Homo sapiens: one gene and its partner. The protein of the gene in region 2 interacts with the protein of the main gene of each other region in a biochemical or structural test. Each region holds a gene or a part of one and is shown on either strand. Other genes may lie near its edges.

Region 1 (3,500 bases), on a different chromosome or scaffold from region 2:
AAGTAAACTAAGAAAAGAGTACACTACACTCCTTAACTGGAGTCACTGATGCTGAAAACGGTAAACGAATGCAAAGACGTGAACAGTCTCGCACAGCAGAATACGCGGCTATTCCCAGAGCCACATACCACACCTGTTTTTTTTCTTCTTTCTGCATTTCCCAAGAGTTTACGACATGCTTCTGGTGAAGGTCCAGCTCCATCTGAGGATGGAAGGGGGACGATGTGAATTTCCTCACCAGACAGATGGGCACTGTGGGGACAGTGTGCTCCTGCCCTCTGTGCCACCTGCGGGAACGTGGCCATGACTTCGCTTCATGGGGACTCAGTGGCACAGGCGTCTAGTAGAGAGCGTGGGGTGACTTCAACATGTATAGTGTGAATGCATGTCAATCAGAAGACCAAAGGACCAGGCACTCCTACACCAATCTTTTGAGCTGGTACAAAGTAACAGAGACTTCCCTCCCACTAGCCCTAGGGTTGGGCTGGACGCTGAAATGGAAATACAATTTCAAAGGCCACCTTGGGTTGATGTACTGCATGCCAGGCCCTGGGAGACAGCTGAGTGAGAAGACTCAACCCTGTGCCTGGCTCCCCGAAGTTTCCTCTGCAAAGCAGATGGACTACGTACTCCCTGTATCAAGTGATGCACCAGTAGGTGCAACAAGTTTAGCATTGTTAGTAAGAGATTTGAGCGCAGACAATCTCCTGGATTAGAAAATGGATCACAACATTCAATCCAAATCTTTTGTTTGGGAAACTGTTTATAAAATTAGCTGGATATGGTGGCGCCCACCTGTAGTCTCAGCTACTCGGGAGGCTGAGGTGGGAGGATCACTTGAGCCCAGGTTTGAGACCAGCCTGAGCAACACAGGGAGACCCTGTCTCTATAAAAAAGTTTTAAAATAATCTTTCCCAACTTACAGCTGTGAACATAGGCAATTAACTTGAATGTTCTGAATAAACTTTTCTGATTTAACGGCTCTGGATGATTCCACCGAAGCCAACAGGGCTAAGGAGTCCTCCCACAGATTAGTGCAAACTGCACAAAAGCACCAGATGTTCCATTATTTAGTGCCTGGCGATTTCTAAATGTAACTACGAATAACACGAAGGCACCAAATGTATACAAAAACTGTAAGTTGAAAATAAATGAATAACAGTGAGGGATGATCTCCCTGCAGCCAAATCTCCACTGAACAAGGCCACCAAGCCAAGAGGCCACCCCCTCCCCTGCCAGCCCAGTTCAGGCCTTCACCAACCCCCGGCTGGGCTGTCGCAGCACCCCTCCCTGTCGGCGGGCACATTGCTACCAGAGGAGTCTCTCTGAAATGCAGCTGGGATCCTGTATGCTGCCCCCAGCCCCTTTGGAGGAAGGTCACACAAGCTCTTCCGATGTCTGGCACCCTCTGCCTCGCCAGCGTCATTTCTTGGGGTTCTCCCTCACTATCTGACATCCTAGCCTCACCCAGACACTTTCAGCTCCCAGGGCTCGCTCTGTTCTCGAGTCTCAAGCCTGGTTCTCACAGTCACATCAACCTAGAACATCCTTTCCTCACCTCTACACACATACATCCCTTCAAACTCTTCCACCCCAGGAACTCCTCTGGGAAGCCTCCCCAACCCCTCCAGAGTTGAGTGCGCTGGCCCATGCTCATCCTCTCAGGCTGGCCCAGCACCCTGCATCCTGCCCTGTAATGAGCTCCCATGCTGGACACAAGCTAATGAGCAGAAACCATGTCTAATCTCCATGCCCGCACCTGGCAGACCAGGCAGCGGAGGTTCAATCAACATTTGTTCAACAACCGAATGAGCCGCTCAGCGCAGCCTGTGCCAGATCTTCTGCCTGGCGCTCTTTTCAGGTGGCTCAAGGTTCCCTCCTCTGTTTCAACCCGGTACAAGATACGTGTTCAAAAAAAAAAGTGTCTGGAAACATGATTTCATCTACTTAGATAAATCAATGGAGATCTCTGATTTTCACCTCTCGAAGTTTCGGGTTGTTCTTTTTCCAGTGTTCGTACAAAAGTTGTTCAGCAATCTATCAAGAAAACACAAAATGGAAAGCCTGATGTCATTTTTCAAATCCATTCACATTTTGGATGACACACAGTGGAAGTCAGCTCAGGCTATGAGTGCCTCCCTTCACACCGTCACTGCAACCACTGTTCAAACCCTCATGCTTCACATGCACAGCTCTGAGAACCACATGGCACTACCAAGTGACTCTTGCAATGATGACAAAAGGGGGCCAAAATCTGATGCTACACAGAGGTCCTATCTAGGGGGTCTCAAAATAATACAGCAGGCTGAAAAGCACAGATTAGGGCTCACTGTTTCACATAACTACTTTGGAAGGTAAAACAGACTAGTCCCAGATCTCTGTGGACCCACAGAACTGGAAGAAAGGAAAAGCACTCAGATGTAATGATTGAAGGGGCTAAAGAGACTACAGCTAACTGATCCAAAACCCAGTCCCTGCACAAGGACCTAAGCTCTTTTCCTGCTGGCTCTGGAGTTAACTGGCATCTCATCAGACCTGAGCACCCAGGAATGACCCTACATGTGCGACACACTCAGGCTGGGAACACTCCTGCTCCACAGCCTCCTGAAGCCCTCTGGGGAGTTACCAGTTTCCTCTGCTCTTCTTTGGCTGATTTCAGCTTCCCGTGCTGCTCCCGGATTCTTCTTTCCTGCAAGTTCATGCTCAGCCTCAGCTCCTCCAGTTCTCTGGCCAGCAGGTCCTGCTCCTCCTGCATGAGCTGCCTGAGCTTTTCCCGTCGGGCCTCCAGACTCCTCCTCTTCTCCTCCTTCATCTTCTCCCGCTGATAGGCATGCATGCTGGGTGAGAGGGGGCCTGCCTGAATCAATCATGCTACAGCCACAGGGAACGTGCTCTGCTCTGCTGTGTCGGTAAAAGAGGCTGAGGTAGATGTGTCATGACGACACAGGAATGTGTCCCCAGCCAAAGCAGAGACAGCAGGTCACAGAATAGTATGTGTAAGAGAAAATCTTGTTTTTTGCAAAAAGAAAATGTATAAATGTATAAATAATGTATATATTATCCATCACATAAATCCTACAGCATAGGTCTGCTGTAGCCCCACTTGATTGATGAGGAAACCAAAGCTCATACATTCAGCAAGAGACACGGTCAGGATTTCCATCTAGGTCTGACTTCAAAGCCTATGCTTTTGGCCTCCATGTTTTTACACGTATTTCTATAAAAGTAGCTTTGTGTGTGTATATTTAAGCACAAATACCAGTGGGAAACAGCATGGAAGGATATGTGCCAGACTGTTAACTGTGGCTGTCTCTGGGGATATGGGGTTACAACCAGGCTTCCAAATTCTATCATATGCTTCTGCATCATTTTATCTTTTTCAATGCCAATGTATGGCTGCACTGATGATCTTTTTTTCCATTTCCAGCTGGAAAAACATCACCATGCAGGTAATTCATACTGCCTGGCAAATCCTACGCTCCCTAAATCCTTAAGGCCTC
Region 2 (6,152 bases):
TTTTTTTTTGGACAGGGTCTAGCCTTGTTGCCCAGGCTGGACTCAAACTCCTGTGTTCAAGTGATCCTCCTGTCTCAGCCTCCCAAGTAGCTGGGACTATGGGCACGCACCACTGTACCCAGCCTCCCTGCATTTCTTTTAAGCTGACTTTTCCATATAGTTCTCACCTCCTCGTGGTTCTTCTTCAGGTAGGCCAGCTCCTCCTTCAGGCTCTCAATCTGCATCTCCAGGTCAGCTCTGGCCAGGGTCAGTTCGTCCAGCACCCTGCGCAGGCCATTGATGTCGGCTTCCACACTCATGCGCAGGTTCAACTCTGTCTCATACCTGGAATGACCCCAGAGAAAAGGTATGAGACACCCATCCTGATCACAGCGAGGGCTTTGTTCTCTTCTCCCTGCAGCTTCTCCCAGAGCTGGTGCCTTGTGGGTGGTTTAAGGAGCCAATCTTGAAAATGGCGTGGTTGAACACAGTGCCCATTGATTGCTCAGATATGAACATTCCTGCGGGCTGGGGATAAGGCAGTTCATCTTGCTGCAGAAATCAGGAGGGGGTTGCACTTCTAGCTTCAGCCAACAAATAATGCAGAAGTCCTCCAACTATGATTCCTTCCTATACTTCAAGGGCAGCTGGGGAAGTGGAAAGTGCCTCTCCCTAAAGCAGCGGTTCTGAAACCTGGCTGTGGACCAGAATCACCCAGGTAACCTGCTATAAATAGCTGAATCAAAACTCCAAGGGTGGGGCCCAAGAGTCTTATTCTTTTATAAGCACCCCAGGGAGTTTTCATGCACCTATCCTGGTACTGGCTAGTTCTATTTGGGAAACACTGCTCCAAAAATGCCCTACTCTGGGGACACTGGATGTTCTGGCCCACCATTTCAAACTCACTTGGTGCGGAAGTCATCCGCGGCCAGACGGGCATTGTCAATCTGCAGAAGGACATTGGCATTGTCCACTGTGGCTGTGAGAATCTGCAGGATGGAAAAGGCACAGGTAATTTGTCAAATGGACTTCACAAGCTGGACTTCACTGTAGCCTACATTAAGCTCTTGCTTCATGTTCTTGCCTGAATCCCCCTTTTCCCCCACAAAACTTGACCATAGCAGCCCAAAGGAAAACAGATGCCCCAGGCCTGTCCTAAGACTTTGCTAACTCATGGTCAACAGAGGGGGTAGATGCAGCCCCGGGCTTAGAATCGAAAGCCCAGGAGTTCTGGTCCCAATTCTGCCAGTGTCTTGCTGCAAAACCTAATGGGTCTTGGGGCTTCAAGTTCCCCACCTCCAGGTGAGGAGAATAATCTGAGGCTCCCTAGCCCTCCTTCCTGAGCTGACCTCTCTTCTGTCTGCATCAGCCAGCCCTGCCAGTCCTCTGCAGATATGCACATTCCTTTTCAAGCTCACAGGCCATGGGACTTCAAGTGGAACTTTCTCAAGAGATAAAACCCAACTAACACAGGGGATTAGAAAAGAGGACTCAGGGGAAGAATAAGAAGATATATTGGCCCCTGAGTCTGGTTGGATTTCCCCACCTCATCATTGAATTTCCCTAATCCATGCAAGTCATTAGAGCCCAACAGACTCCAGCAGGGAGGGCTCCCAAGTAATGTGGGAGCAGGGAGGAGGGGGCTAGAGTCAGGGCACAAGCCTGCCAGGCTCTCTCTGTGCAGGGCACATCAAGGGACCACACTAATTGTCTCTGCAGGCTCTCCATGCCCGCCTGGCTGTGGGGAGGGACCAGCCTGTACCAAGGCTTATGGGCGGCGGCAGCCACAGCCCAGACTAGTGAGCTAATGAGTGGTTTGGATGTCTTGCCTGGTCCCGTTAGAGCCTCACTCCTCCCCTGTGCTGGAGAACAAGTAGCTGCCTCCTGTGCTGGAAGGTAGGGCACAAGGGCCCCAGCCTTGGCTCTGCCATTAATTTGCTATGTGACCTGCAGCTGGTCACAGCACCTCTCGAAGCTTCAACTGCTTCCTCTAAAAAATGTAAGGATAGGAATCACTGATCTCACATGGTCTGAGGATTTGAGATCAGAAGGGGATGAGGAGGCTGGGGAAGGGAAAGCATCTTCTCACTGATCAGTCTTAGGGCATCCAAGACCTCGAAAGAAGGGATCTGGGGTGGACTCTGTCCTATAGAGAAATCTTAAGGTCTCAGGGGCCTGGGGCATGAATTGTTCCCAGAAGGAGCTAGCTGGAATGGTGCCTTCTGCTGCCCATTCACCCACCTTGTTCCTCAGGTCCTCAATGGTCTTGAAGTAGGGACTGTAGTCTTTGATCTCAGCAGGCCGCTGCCTCTGGTACCAGTCACGGATCTTCACTTCCAGGTCGGCGTTGGCCTCCTCCAGAGCACGCACCTTGTCCAGGTAGGAGGCCAGGCGGTCATTGAGGTTCTGCATGGTCACCTTCTCACTGCCCACCAGAAGCCCATCACCACCAGCAAAGCCACCACCAAAGCCACCACCCAAGCCAGCACCAAGGCCACCACCATATCCTCCCCCAAAGCCACTACCAAAGCTGCTGCTGCTGCTGCTGAAGCCACCGCCATAGCCGCCCCCCAGCCCGCAGGCTCCCCCAGAGGAGAAGCGGGAGGATGAGACAGACAGGCCGCCCCCGTAGGTGCTGGGGGCGCGGCAGGACCCTCCGGCCAGGACGGAGGAGATGCGGCTGGAGCCGCCCCCGATGCCGCCCCCGATGCCGCAGGAGCCCTTCATGGAGCTGGAGGAGGTGAACTGGCGGCTGCAGGTGGTCATGGTGCAGAGGAGGGAGGTGAGCGAGCGAGCAGTTGGCTGAGTGAAGAGAAGGTGCTCGGGTAAATTGGAAAGGGATGCGAGTGCTTTATACTCGTGGGTAGGGGGCGGGTCTGGCACTTTCCATTCCCCTTGGCTTTCATCACCCACAGGCTAGCGCCAACTCCCAGCCAGGTCCCTCCTCTCATCCGCCTCATCATGTCTGTCATATTTTACTGGAAACTCATTGTTTGGAGTGTTTTGGGCTTTCTTGTCCCGCCAGGCGTGATTCACAGGGGGAGGTGTGGGCCTGCAGGCTACACTTTCCCATCGGACCCTGGGAGTCCCAGCCCTCAGGAACCCGCGCACTGGGCTTAGCCAGGGTGACAGAGAGCAGGGCCTCTGCACCTTAAACCTAGTTACCTGCTAGCTCTCCATGAACTGAATGGGCCTTTAACATCCACGTAGAGGAAGCCTGCTGCTGCAGGGGATGGATACCCGGCTGGAAAGCACCGGCATGGCAAGGTCACCTTGGGCACAGACAGGCCTCCCTCACCATGACCCTCTATTAGAGACAAGGAGGTCTGGGGGGCCCTCCCAGGCCTGACCTCCCATGCTGTGCTGAGAAGTCTGTCCCATCCCTGAAATACACCCAGCTAGTCAGGTGTATCGTGGTTCCCACCCCAACATCCCCATCAAAGAGAAATCCAGGCAGCTCTCCCCAGCCCTGAGCACAGACCCTAATCTCCTCCCTATGGTGAGGATCTCACATCCACCACACCATAGGGCAGGTGGCCTCATGGAGGCCAGGAAACAGCCTGGAGTCAGGTGGGTCCTGGCTCTGCCATTTACGCCTCTGTGACCCAGGGCTTGGCACTTCTCTGAGCCTCAGTGTTCTCATCTGCAAAGTGGGAGTCATACCATCTATTCTGCTTAGTGCAGTCAGCTCTGAGAATCCAATGCGACAATGTATGTGAAAGGGTTTTGTAAACCGAGTATGGCAAGAAGCCTCGTTGGCATTGTTATAGCCCAGGCTTAGCCCCAAAGTGGCTGGAGCTGCATCCAGGAACAGGCCTAGGGGGGCCTTTTATTCTTCCAGCCCCAGATATCTTCTCAGACCCCCAGAACATCCCTAGTGTGGGCAGCTCAGGCGCCCTCGTTTGAGCCCCTTGTGGAACTGGCCCAGGAGATGTTCTGGGGAGGAGTAGAGGCTGGAGTGGAGCTGGGCTGTGCCAAGGGCAAGGCTGAGGTGGACACGAGGGTCCCTGACTCCTGAAGCCCCAAGGGTCAGGGGACATTTCTAGGAGTCCACTTGGTCCTGCTTTGGAGGTGTGTATATCAAAACTTCAGCAATCTCCCAGACAACCTCCCAAAGCAAACCCTTCCGGCCCCCACCCCACCCTCCCATCAGCCCCTAGGCTCCACAGACCCCGGCAGGCATGTTGAGAGGAATGTGATCGTGTCTGGGGCTGCCTGACGCATCCTATCTCCTCAGACAGGCCCCAACAGCCCCTGCTGGAGGCTCCAATGCTCTTCCTGGGATCAACTGCTCCTAGAAGAGAAGCAGGACCCTCTGTCACCCCCAACCCCACCTTGACTGTCACCAAAGAAGAAGCCAGAGAAGGGAGCCCCCCACTACTGTGGCCTAGGAGCTTGGAAGACAATGCTGAGACAGACATCTGAGCTGTGGGCTCCCCAAATCTGCCAGCAAAGGACTCTCAAGGATGTGAGTAAGCCAGGGCCCCACCCCGCTCCACCCGCCCCTGACAGACACTCCTAATCTCCCTGCAGAGAATGGTCCCCCCACCCTGGCCCAGCCCTACAATTTCCCCAGAGAGAGGCAACAGGGGTTTTGGCTGAGGGACAGATGCTTTTGTTGGGAGGCATGTTGCTGTTGGCTGTGGGGCAAGGGGAGGCTGTGCTCACTGGAGAAAAATGCTGTGTCCAGAGGGATCTGGGAGCGGGAATGGGGTGCAGAGCCCAGTACCGGCTTCCTCTGTGCCCCACCACCCCCACCCACCACCACCACCACCATGTCTCCTTCTTATGCAGGGATCAGGAATAGAAGCTCCGGAGCCCGGGACATAGGAACAGCTCTACTTTCCCTTTCATTTCATTCAATAAAACCCAAAAGAAACTCCTTCCTCCCCCTCCTCCGAGGGGAATCCAAAAGATAAAGATGGCAGGGAACCAATGACAGATCAGTCAATCACATAATCTTAAAAGGCACTTCTGCAGTCCCACCCCAACCCCACGCACCAACACCAGAACCCTAGCATGGAATATAAGCCTGATCCCCCACACCCGGTCTTAGAACCGTGACCCAACCTGGAGCCTGAGGCCAACCCCTGCAGACAAGGACTCAGTGACCAAGGAGCTGCAAACAACCCAGCCAAGCAGGGAGCAGACTTAGAGGACACCACACTCCCCTCCCCTCCCTGATGCCAAAGAAGCATGGTACTCAGACATTTTAAGGGAGGGCATTTTCTGGGGCATCAGGGGTTAAAGGGTTGTCAGTCCTGACTGCTGAGGCCCAGAGTACCCCCCACCTCTGGACTTCTAGGCAGACTTTGTGTGAGCACCATTACCTGACCCTCCCTCCAGCCTGCCCCAAAAGGAGGGGGGTAAAGGAGGAGCCCCGGGCAGGACCTCTTGTGGTTAGTGAGTCTCCCTGCACCACCCTGCATGGGGGAGCCCTCTGCCAATCCAAACAGGTGAAGCTGGCAGGGCCAGGCAGCACCTCCAGAGCCCACACTGTGTGCTGAGGACTGTGCTGGGGACCAGGAGATGGCATCCTAAGGAAGGAGGAAACCTCAGGACAGCCCCCGCCCTTGGAGTGCATGGCCTACTGGAAGAGACGATCCCTGCCTTTAGGAAGGTCCCAGCATGAAAGAGAAGCAGGAATGCACATCAACATTACTTAACATACAAACAAATGGAAGAAAAGCACAGACAAGTAAGATTGGTTTCCCAGGGCTGCCATAACAAATTACCACAAATTTGATGGCTTAAAACAACTGGCTGGGCACAGTGGCTCACGAATATAATCCCAGCACTTTGGGAGGCCAAGGCAGGTGGATCACCTGAGGCCAGGAGTTCAAGACCAGCCTGGCCAATATGGTGAAACCCCATCTCTACTAAAAATGCAAAAATTAGCCAGGTGTGGTGGCAGGTGCCTGTAGTCCCAACTACTCGAGAGGCTGAGGCAGAAGAATCACTTGAATCCGGGAGGCAGAGGTTGCAGTGAGCCAAGATCACGCCACTGCACTCCAGCGTGGGCAACAGAGCAAGACTCCGTCTCAAAAAAAAACAACAGAAATGTATTCTCTCTGGAATACATTCTGGAAACCATAAGCCCTGAATCAAGGTGTTGGCAGGGCCACACTCCCTCTGAAGACTCTGGGGAAGAGCCCTTCCTTGCCTCTTCCAGC

The links.
Region 1: the proteins of KRT14 (region 2) and TCHP form a complex in vitro, tested with the Homo sapiens proteins (one study listed by BioGRID).

Annotation. Positions count from the first base shown.
Region 1 is NC_000012.12:109,903,274-109,906,773, reverse strand, and holds part of TCHP (trichoplein keratin filament-binding protein), read right to left. Parts: intron 2,854-3,500; exon of another isoform or gene 2,838-2,853; coding exon 2,627-2,837; intron 2,038-2,626; coding exon 1,981-2,037; intron 1,946-1,980; exon of another isoform or gene 1,760-1,945; intron 203-1,759; coding exon 134-202; intron 1-133. UniProt on the Homo sapiens protein: Tumor suppressor which has the ability to inhibit cell growth and be pro-apoptotic during cell stress. Inhibits cell growth in bladder and prostate cancer cells by a down-regulation of HSPB1 by inhibiting its phosphorylation.
Region 2 is NC_000017.11:41,584,090-41,590,241, forward strand, and holds the start of KRT14 (keratin, type I cytoskeletal 14), read right to left. Parts: upstream 2,807-6,152; 5' UTR 2,746-2,806; coding exon 2,221-2,745; intron 969-2,220; coding exon 886-968; intron 325-885; coding exon 168-324; intron 1-167. UniProt on the Homo sapiens protein: The nonhelical tail domain is involved in promoting KRT5-KRT14 filaments to self-organize into large bundles and enhances the mechanical properties involved in resilience of keratin intermediate filaments in vitro.